Homo sapiens: one gene and its partner. The protein of the gene in region 1 purifies or fractionates together with the protein of each later gene. This does not show direct contact. Each region holds a gene or a part of one and is shown on either strand. Other genes may lie near its edges.

What was found. The genes of interacting proteins can lie anywhere in the genome.
Region 2: the proteins of SNN (region 1) and FSAF1 purify together in Homo sapiens (affinity purification with mass spectrometry; one large-scale study listed by BioGRID and IntAct). This does not show direct contact.

Annotation. Positions count from the first base shown.
Region 1 is NC_000016.10:11,666,936-11,670,684, forward strand, and holds the start of SNN (stannin), read left to right. Parts: upstream 1-1,519; 5' UTR 1,520-1,605; intron 1,606-3,749. UniProt on the Homo sapiens protein: Plays a role in the toxic effects of organotins. Plays a role in endosomal maturation.
Region 2 is NC_000001.11:231,224,100-231,227,748, forward strand, and holds part of FSAF1 (40S small subunit processome assembly factor 1), read right to left. Parts: intron 2,970-3,649; coding exon 2,874-2,969; intron 2,727-2,873; coding exon 2,640-2,726; intron 1,425-2,639; coding exon 1,372-1,424; intron 316-1,371; coding exon 180-315; 3' UTR 1-179.

The DNA.
Region 1 (3,749 bases):
GACAGAGCAAGACCTTCTCTCTAAAAAAAAGAAAAAAAATTGCTTCGTCAAATCTGCCCACATTCATAGATATAGGCTGAGTGGGACGATGGCTTGAGCCCAGGAAGGAGTTGGATGGAGGCTGTAGTGAGCTGTGATTGCACCACTGTACTCCAGCCTGAGTGACAGACCAAGACCCCGTCTCAAAAACAAAACAAAAAACCCCAAGGGAGCTACTCTTGGCTGGGCGATCAGGGAGGGCCCTCCTGAGGAAGGGGCACTTAAGCTGAGATCGGGAAGATGAAGTAGAAGAGTTCCAGCTGCAGGGAGCCACATAGGCAAAGGCCTGGCGGTGGGAAAGGCTTGGTGCACTGGGCGCAGGGAAGAAAGCCCAGCGAGGCTGAGTGGAGGGAGTGAGGGCCTGGCCACCTCAGCCTCGTGAGCCCAACCCGCCATGCTCTTCCAGAGGCTTCTGCTTGAGAATGGGAAAGAAGTTTCCAGCAAATAAGGCCCCCGTTCCCAGGAGGAGGTCCCAGCTCGCCCTGCCCCCTCCTGTCTTCTCAAGTCCCCTGGGCCACAGAAGCCTTGAGGGACCCACCCTCACCCCTTCTGTGGGCCCCAGGGCTGGGGTGTCCTCTCGCCGATGGCCTTCTTGGGGTGGATGAGTGGAGATTACTCCAATAACTGGAGCCTCTGTCTTCCCAGGTAGACAGGCCTGGCCTCAAAACCCTCTCTCCATCAGGAGCAGGCTGTGGGACTTCAGCTCTTTGGAGCCTCAGGTTCCTCATCTGTAAAATGGGAAGATTCTTTCTTCCGGAGTCATCTTAATAAAATGTGTTGGGCTGTTTATACAGGGCAGGCATTTGGTGGGGGCCAAACCACCGGGTAATTATGCTAAAAATAACTATGATTATAGGTGGCAGAGGGGTGCAAATGCCTCACAGCCTCATCCCGCAGAGGAATGAGAGCTTCGTCAGGGCCGGGACCTTGTCTGGCTCGTGGCTGCTCCCACGACGACTGGCGTGGCAGGCACGTGGTCAGTGTTCCGCCATCGACTGACTGGGCGGATGAATGATACATAAATGAATTCGCGAACGACTGATGCCCAGCTTCCTCCCGAAGCAAGGTCATTCACCTCAGCGGTCGCGCCTCTCCCCTGCCCCTGCCCCGGATTCCCCGCCGCTCTCAGCTCTCGAGGAGTATGCAGCACTCTTCCGTGCAGCGTGCCTCAGTTTCCTCCGCTGTAAGCAGGCGGGACCAAGGCAGCCTGCCGGGGTCAGGATGAGGCTGGCAGAGGAAGGGCGCCTGTAGTGGGGCCCCGTACCCACGGGCGCCCAATCCGCGCTCGCCAGGGCCGAGCCCGCCCGCCGCGCGCAGCCCCCGCCCCACCGCCTGCCGGCCCCGAGCACACGTGACTCCGCCCCGGCCCGCCCCGCCCCGCCGTCCCAGCGCGGGCTCCCATTGGCCTTTCTGGGAGGCCCCGTCCCCAGCCGGGGAGGAGCCGGGCCCCGCCCGCCGCAGCGCGGGGCTCCTGCGTCCCGAGTGCGCGGCGGCCGGACCGGGCGGGCGGAGCCGGGCCCGCGGGGCTGCTGCGGGGCGATCGGGCCGGGCCGCTGCCGCGCCATGGTGAGCCGGGCGGGGCAGGCCGCGCGCTCGGGCCGGGCGGGGGCGCCGGGGCCCGGGGGCGGGAAGGGGGAGGCCAGGACGAGGAGGGGCGCGCGCGGCGGCGGGGCCGGGCCGGGGTCTGCGGGCGGGGGAGGGGCGGCCCGGCGGGCGCGGCTCGGGGGAGGGTCCGTTCCAGGGGCCGCGCCCGCGGGCTGGGGTTCTTTGTCAGCGGCGCTGCGGCGAGATCCGGACAAAGGAGGCGGCGGGGGGCGGAGGCCGCTTTGTGGGGATCGCGGGGCGCTCGCCCCCGCCCGTGCAGCCCCCGCCCGTCCTCAGCTACGCTCCCGCCTTCCCCCGGCATTTCGGGGTTCTTCAAAATTCTGGGAGCTCCGGGGAGGGCTCCGGGGATAGGGGTCCAGGTGACGTCCGGCGCCCGTCTCGCGGGTAGGGAAACTGAGGCCGGGCCGCAGCGTTCGGCGCCCGGTTCCGTGGGCAGCGGCTGCGCGGCGTGGGCATGCCTAGCTCCCCTGGTCCCCGTCCCACACCCCGCCTCCGTCGGGCCGATTCGAGCTACCTCCCCAGCTGCCGTCCCCTCTCCAGCTGTCGCCCCCTGGGCCGAGCCCCCTCCTCCCTGGAGCCTCGCTTTGCTCCTCCGTGGAGTGGGGGAGACGCCGGCGCCGCCGGGCAGGGTGGAACGGGAGGGTGCGCGGAGCGCGCCTGGCACCGCGCCTGCCACGCCGCCCGCGCTCAGCACTCGGGAGCCGCCGGGGCGCTGTCACCCCTAAGTCCCCAGCACCCAGCCCAGGTCGCCCAGCCCGCCCCAGCGAGGGCCACACTGGGGTTCACCTGTCCGCGGCCCCTCAGGCACGCGGGAGAGGAGGTAGGGAGAATGTGGCATTTTAGAGTCAGGGTCGAAATGCGGGATTTTGGATGCAGGTTGCCTGGGTTTGAATCCCTGCGCGTCTACTTTTGAGCTGTGTGACCTTGGGCAATGGACTTAACTTCTCTGAGCCACCAATTTCTGTATCTGCCAAGAGGGAACAGTAATAGCTCAACTGCCCTGTTGTCTTGAGGCAGAAAGGAGACATCTGCGTGAGCTGTTTATCTCAGTGTCTGGCACATATAATTGCCACCAACTTTCTCCGGCATCTACAAGCAAAGTTGTTTGGCCAAACAGGCCAACCCTGGGGCAGCCTGTGAAAATGACCAGCGGGTGATTCACAGGGTGGGGGCATGAGCCTCTGGCCTGGCCCGAGGAAGACCCCGACTGACCTTGGGGCAGTCCCGGTTCAGAGCTCTGCGGGCTCCCGCTTCCTCTTTTGCCACTGGGGAACCTAGGGGATTCTGGAGCGAGTTTCCTCTTCTGAGGATGGGGGTGTCATGGGTGGGGGTGGAGGATGAGATAACACTGGCCAGAGAGCTGGGCACAGCCCCATCAGTGTCAGTCCCACTGGCATCCGGCCGTTCTTGGTCCTGGCTTCTGGAGGGCTGGGGCCTTGTGTGATGCGTCCTTGTGTCCCACTGGCTGCTGGAGGCCCAGGGCAGAACGGACGTCCCGCCTCGTCCTGGCTGTGTCCAGCAGTGCCCTCTTCTCCCTACAACCCTGTTTTCCCAGTCAGAACCTGGGGCAGGAAACGTTTCTGGTTTGTGACCCGGGGTTCGCTGAAGAGTTTGTTGGCACCCTTGGCAGGTGGCTTTATGGGGGGAGGCAGTACTGAAAGCCCCGTAGGGATGGCTGGTCCCCTGTAAGCAGGGCAGCCCTCCTGGCGTCTGTCAAGGAGCCTCAGGAGGTGGCGGCTGCAAGGCGGGGGTGTTTTGCTGGTGGTGAGCCCGGCAATGCTCATGATGTGCCCGGTTGAGTTAGGAGGAGGCAGCGTGTCCCTGGGGAAGGGGTGTTTGTGGCACTGGGCCTGGGCCAGGCTCTGTGCCCTTCTGGCCCTGGGGGTGGGCTTGGGGATCCCTCGGGCTCAGTGTTCTCCCTTTGTCCCTGCTGTAGCACACAGGAAGGTGTGGCTGGTGACATGCAAACCTGGTGACCTCATGTCCCTTTTGTTTTCACTTTTCTTACCACTTCTCATCCTCCCCACGACCTGGTAGATGAGGTCAGGGACTCGTATCCGCTTTGCGCATTGAGAAACTGAGGCCAAGAGGAGCAGCTTGCTTGG
Region 2 (3,649 bases), on another chromosome or scaffold:
GCACCATGAAGCAGACACTTCGGCAACTAGAAATGTTACTTCTGTTTGACTTTTTTTCTAAAATGAAAAAGCAGTCTGTGAAATGCGTGTTAAGAACGATCTATCTAGAGTCGCACAGGGTCCAGGGCCGCTGCAGTTGACTCAGTTGTTCCCATCCTCGTTTTATTTGACAAAGTACTTCATTTGGCCACTCTGGAAGAATTTATTTTCTTGATATCAACTGGGCTCAGAATCAGTGTTCCATTTTTGAATTTTCCAACCTGTCCAATCCGTCCATTTGACAAAATACTGGGAGCGGACTTCTTTTTGGATTTCCTACATTTAAAGTAAGAGAAAGGTACTATAAATAGTCAAGCTTACCAACAAGCATCACAGTACCACCAACCAGGCCACTGCAGTCTGGCCTGCAAACTCCTGGTCGCCTGCCATGCACACCCCCCACCCCATACGCCTTCCTGTGGTCCCTGAAACATGCTACTGCCTTCCTGCCTCAGGGCCCTTGCACTGGTTTCTTCTGCAAGGAATGTTCTGCTACCAGCTCTTTCCAGGCTGCCCCTCTTCTTTGTTCAGTTCTCAGCTCCGATGTCACCTCCTCAGACTAATTTCCCAGCTCACCTTCTCCCTGTGGTTTTCCTTCACAATGCTCTCTTTCAGCCTCTCTACAATACTTGCCAGTACCTGATATCATCTTACTTATCCATTTGTATGTTTTGGGGTGTTTCTCTCCCTACAATGAAGCTCCTCAAGGGCAGGGATATCTTTAGTGTGATTACAGCTGTACACCAATACCTAAGACACCCACATGCCTGGCACAAAGAGGCATTCAACAGATACAGATCGGTGGCCAGAACAAATGACCATTTTACAGCATGTACAAGTGCACTAGGAGCCCAAGAAAACAGGCTAAGACAAAAAGAGTCCATTCTGAAACAGTAACTCAAAGACAGAGAAAAAGGCATTTGAACAAAAGCTAACAAACAAGTATAAAGCAACAAAGTCAACATCCCTTATTCATAATTACGGTGCTCTATCTTACGTGGTATGTCAAAGAGCAGGCTATACAGACCCAGACTACGCTGCTGTAGCAGCACTCTTAGAAGTCTTTTCTTGGAAATGTAAACTGCAGCTTTTCCACTAGTCACTTAGAGTGTCGGTGAAAAGTGGAAGATTGGAGAAACTTCCTAATTCAGTTCTCAGGCAGTTGTTTGATCTTGGGCAGTTTACTAAATCCTACTTTGACAAGGATAAATGAGAGACAGTGAAGCGCTCTAATGGGCTAGCAACACCACATACATTCAAGGCGTCCTTGTCAGAACTCATCAGTAGGTTCATCCAGATTGTTCAACCCCAGGACCTGATAAAATCACTCACCTGTCCTCCTGTCCTTTCCTCTTCTTTTTCTTGAAAATATCTGTTTCTTGGGCCTGATTTCAGAATTTAAGATCATATACATATTAGTAGTGGATAATGGGATTCAAACAAAAGGCAAGAGGTTTGTGACCAAAAGTCATTGAGATACCATTTTTAACATTTCTTTCAAGTGGGCATATTAAACATAACAGTCTCAAAGTTTTACCCTAAAACCCTTTCAAGAATGTGAAAGGCTGGGCCTGGCGTGGTGGCTCATGCCTATAGTCCTAGCACTCCAGGAAGCCAAGGGGGGAGGATCACTTGATCCCAGGAGTTCAAGACCAGCCTGGGCAACACAGCAAGATCCTGTCTCAGTTAGAAAGAAAAAGACAAAAGAATGTGAATGGCTATTCCAGGTAAGACTAATAGTCTTACACTGAAAGCTCAAATCTTCCATTTTAGGTGAAAGGTAGAAAGTGTAACATCTATTCCCCTTGTGGTTTTTCATAGGCCCTTGTGTTGTATACAAGGTTATACAACGTAAAATGCAAAAAAAAAAAAAAAAAAAAAAAAAAACCTAAGTATAGAAGAAAGATCAAAGTAGCCTGCATTATTGGAACAGGATTGCTATAGTTTGGATAGCTGACCCTCCAAACCTCAGGTTGAAATTTGATCCCAACATTAGAGACGGGACCTAGTGGGAGGTGTTTGGGTCATGGCAATGGATCCCTCATGAATGGCTTGGTGCTGTCCTCATGGTAATGAGTGAGTTCTCCCTCTGTTACTTCCCACTTCCCATGAGAGCTGTTTGTTAAAAAGAGCCTGGCACCTCTCCCCACTGCTGCTTCGCTCTTTCATGTCTCGCTCTTGCCATGTGATCTCTGTACACATGGGCTTCCCTCTGCCTTCCCTCATGAGCGGAAGCAGCTTCAGATGCTCACCGGAGGCCGAGCAGATGCCAGTGCTATGCTTTCCATGCAGTCTGCAGAACCATGCTCCAAATCAGCCTCCTTTCTTTATAAATTACGCAGCATCAGGCATTCCTTTACAGCAACAAAAACGGACTAAGACAAGGAGTTTGCTATTTCAAAGCAAATCTTGCATGTAAGTACGCCAGATTACTTGGCTGGTATTACTAAACAGAGCTAACTCGAAGAAATGGGGAGCATGGGATCCTTTAACTCTGGTGCCTTCATTGCTCTCCAAGCAGCGGCTTCCGGCATTCCACTGTGGCAAAGAGCATCCATCTTCCCATTCTAGTTGAATAAAGGACAGACCATCACACCTACCAGTCTCTTTTCTTCTTCCTTTGCTGCCTTTTTTTCTTTAATTTGCTCCTGTAAAACCTTGTAATTCACATAACTCTTTTTAGGAGGCTGTAATGAAAGAACAAAGAAACAAACCATCATATTTTATTCTGCAAAAATGTTCCAGTGTCCCTTGCCCTGACTTGCTCTTAGCTTTCCTTGCTCTTGCTTTTTTTGCATGTTGTCTAGTGATGAAAGGTAGCAGCAGCCCCTCACCTTAGCGCCCAGCATAATGGCACGTTCCTGTTCCAGGATTCTCTCCTTTCCTTTTCCATAACCCGTGATACCAAACCGGTGCACTTCTAAACGAGCCTGCGGACACAAAGCATAATCAGACGCAAGTGCATTCCAACAACTCCAAAGAAAAAAACATACTGCCAGAAGTAATGCATTTCAGATCCACCGCTCTGTAATGACAGCGTACAGGAATAATAACTCCACTGTCATGTGGTCAAAGGAGCTCTATGGAGGCTCTCCTACCATACACCATCTCTCACAACATCTTTCTCCTGTTTTTTTTCCTTTGAGACAGGGTCTTGCTCTGTTACCCGCCAGGATGGAGTACAGTTAAAAAGAGGCATGATCATGTCTCACTGCAGCCTTGACCTCCTGGGCATGTGATCTCCTGCCTCAGCCTCCCGAGTAGCTAGGACTATAGGCACGCACCACCACACCCAGCTAATTCTTAAAAAATGTTTTATAGAGAAGAGGTCTCACTATGTTGCCCAGACTGGCCTTGAACTCCTAGGCTCAAGTGATCCTCCCACCTCAGCCTCCCAAAGTGCTGGGATTATAGGTGTGAGCCACCGTGCCTGGCTCTCGCCCACGGTTTTTTTTTTTTTTTTTTTTTGAGACGGAGTCTCACTCTGTTGCCCAGGCTGGAGCACAGTGGCATGATTTCAGCTCACTGCAAGCTCTGCCTCCTGGGTTCATGCCATTCGCCTGCCTCAGCCTCCCGAGTAGCTGGGACTACAGGTACCTGCCACCATGCC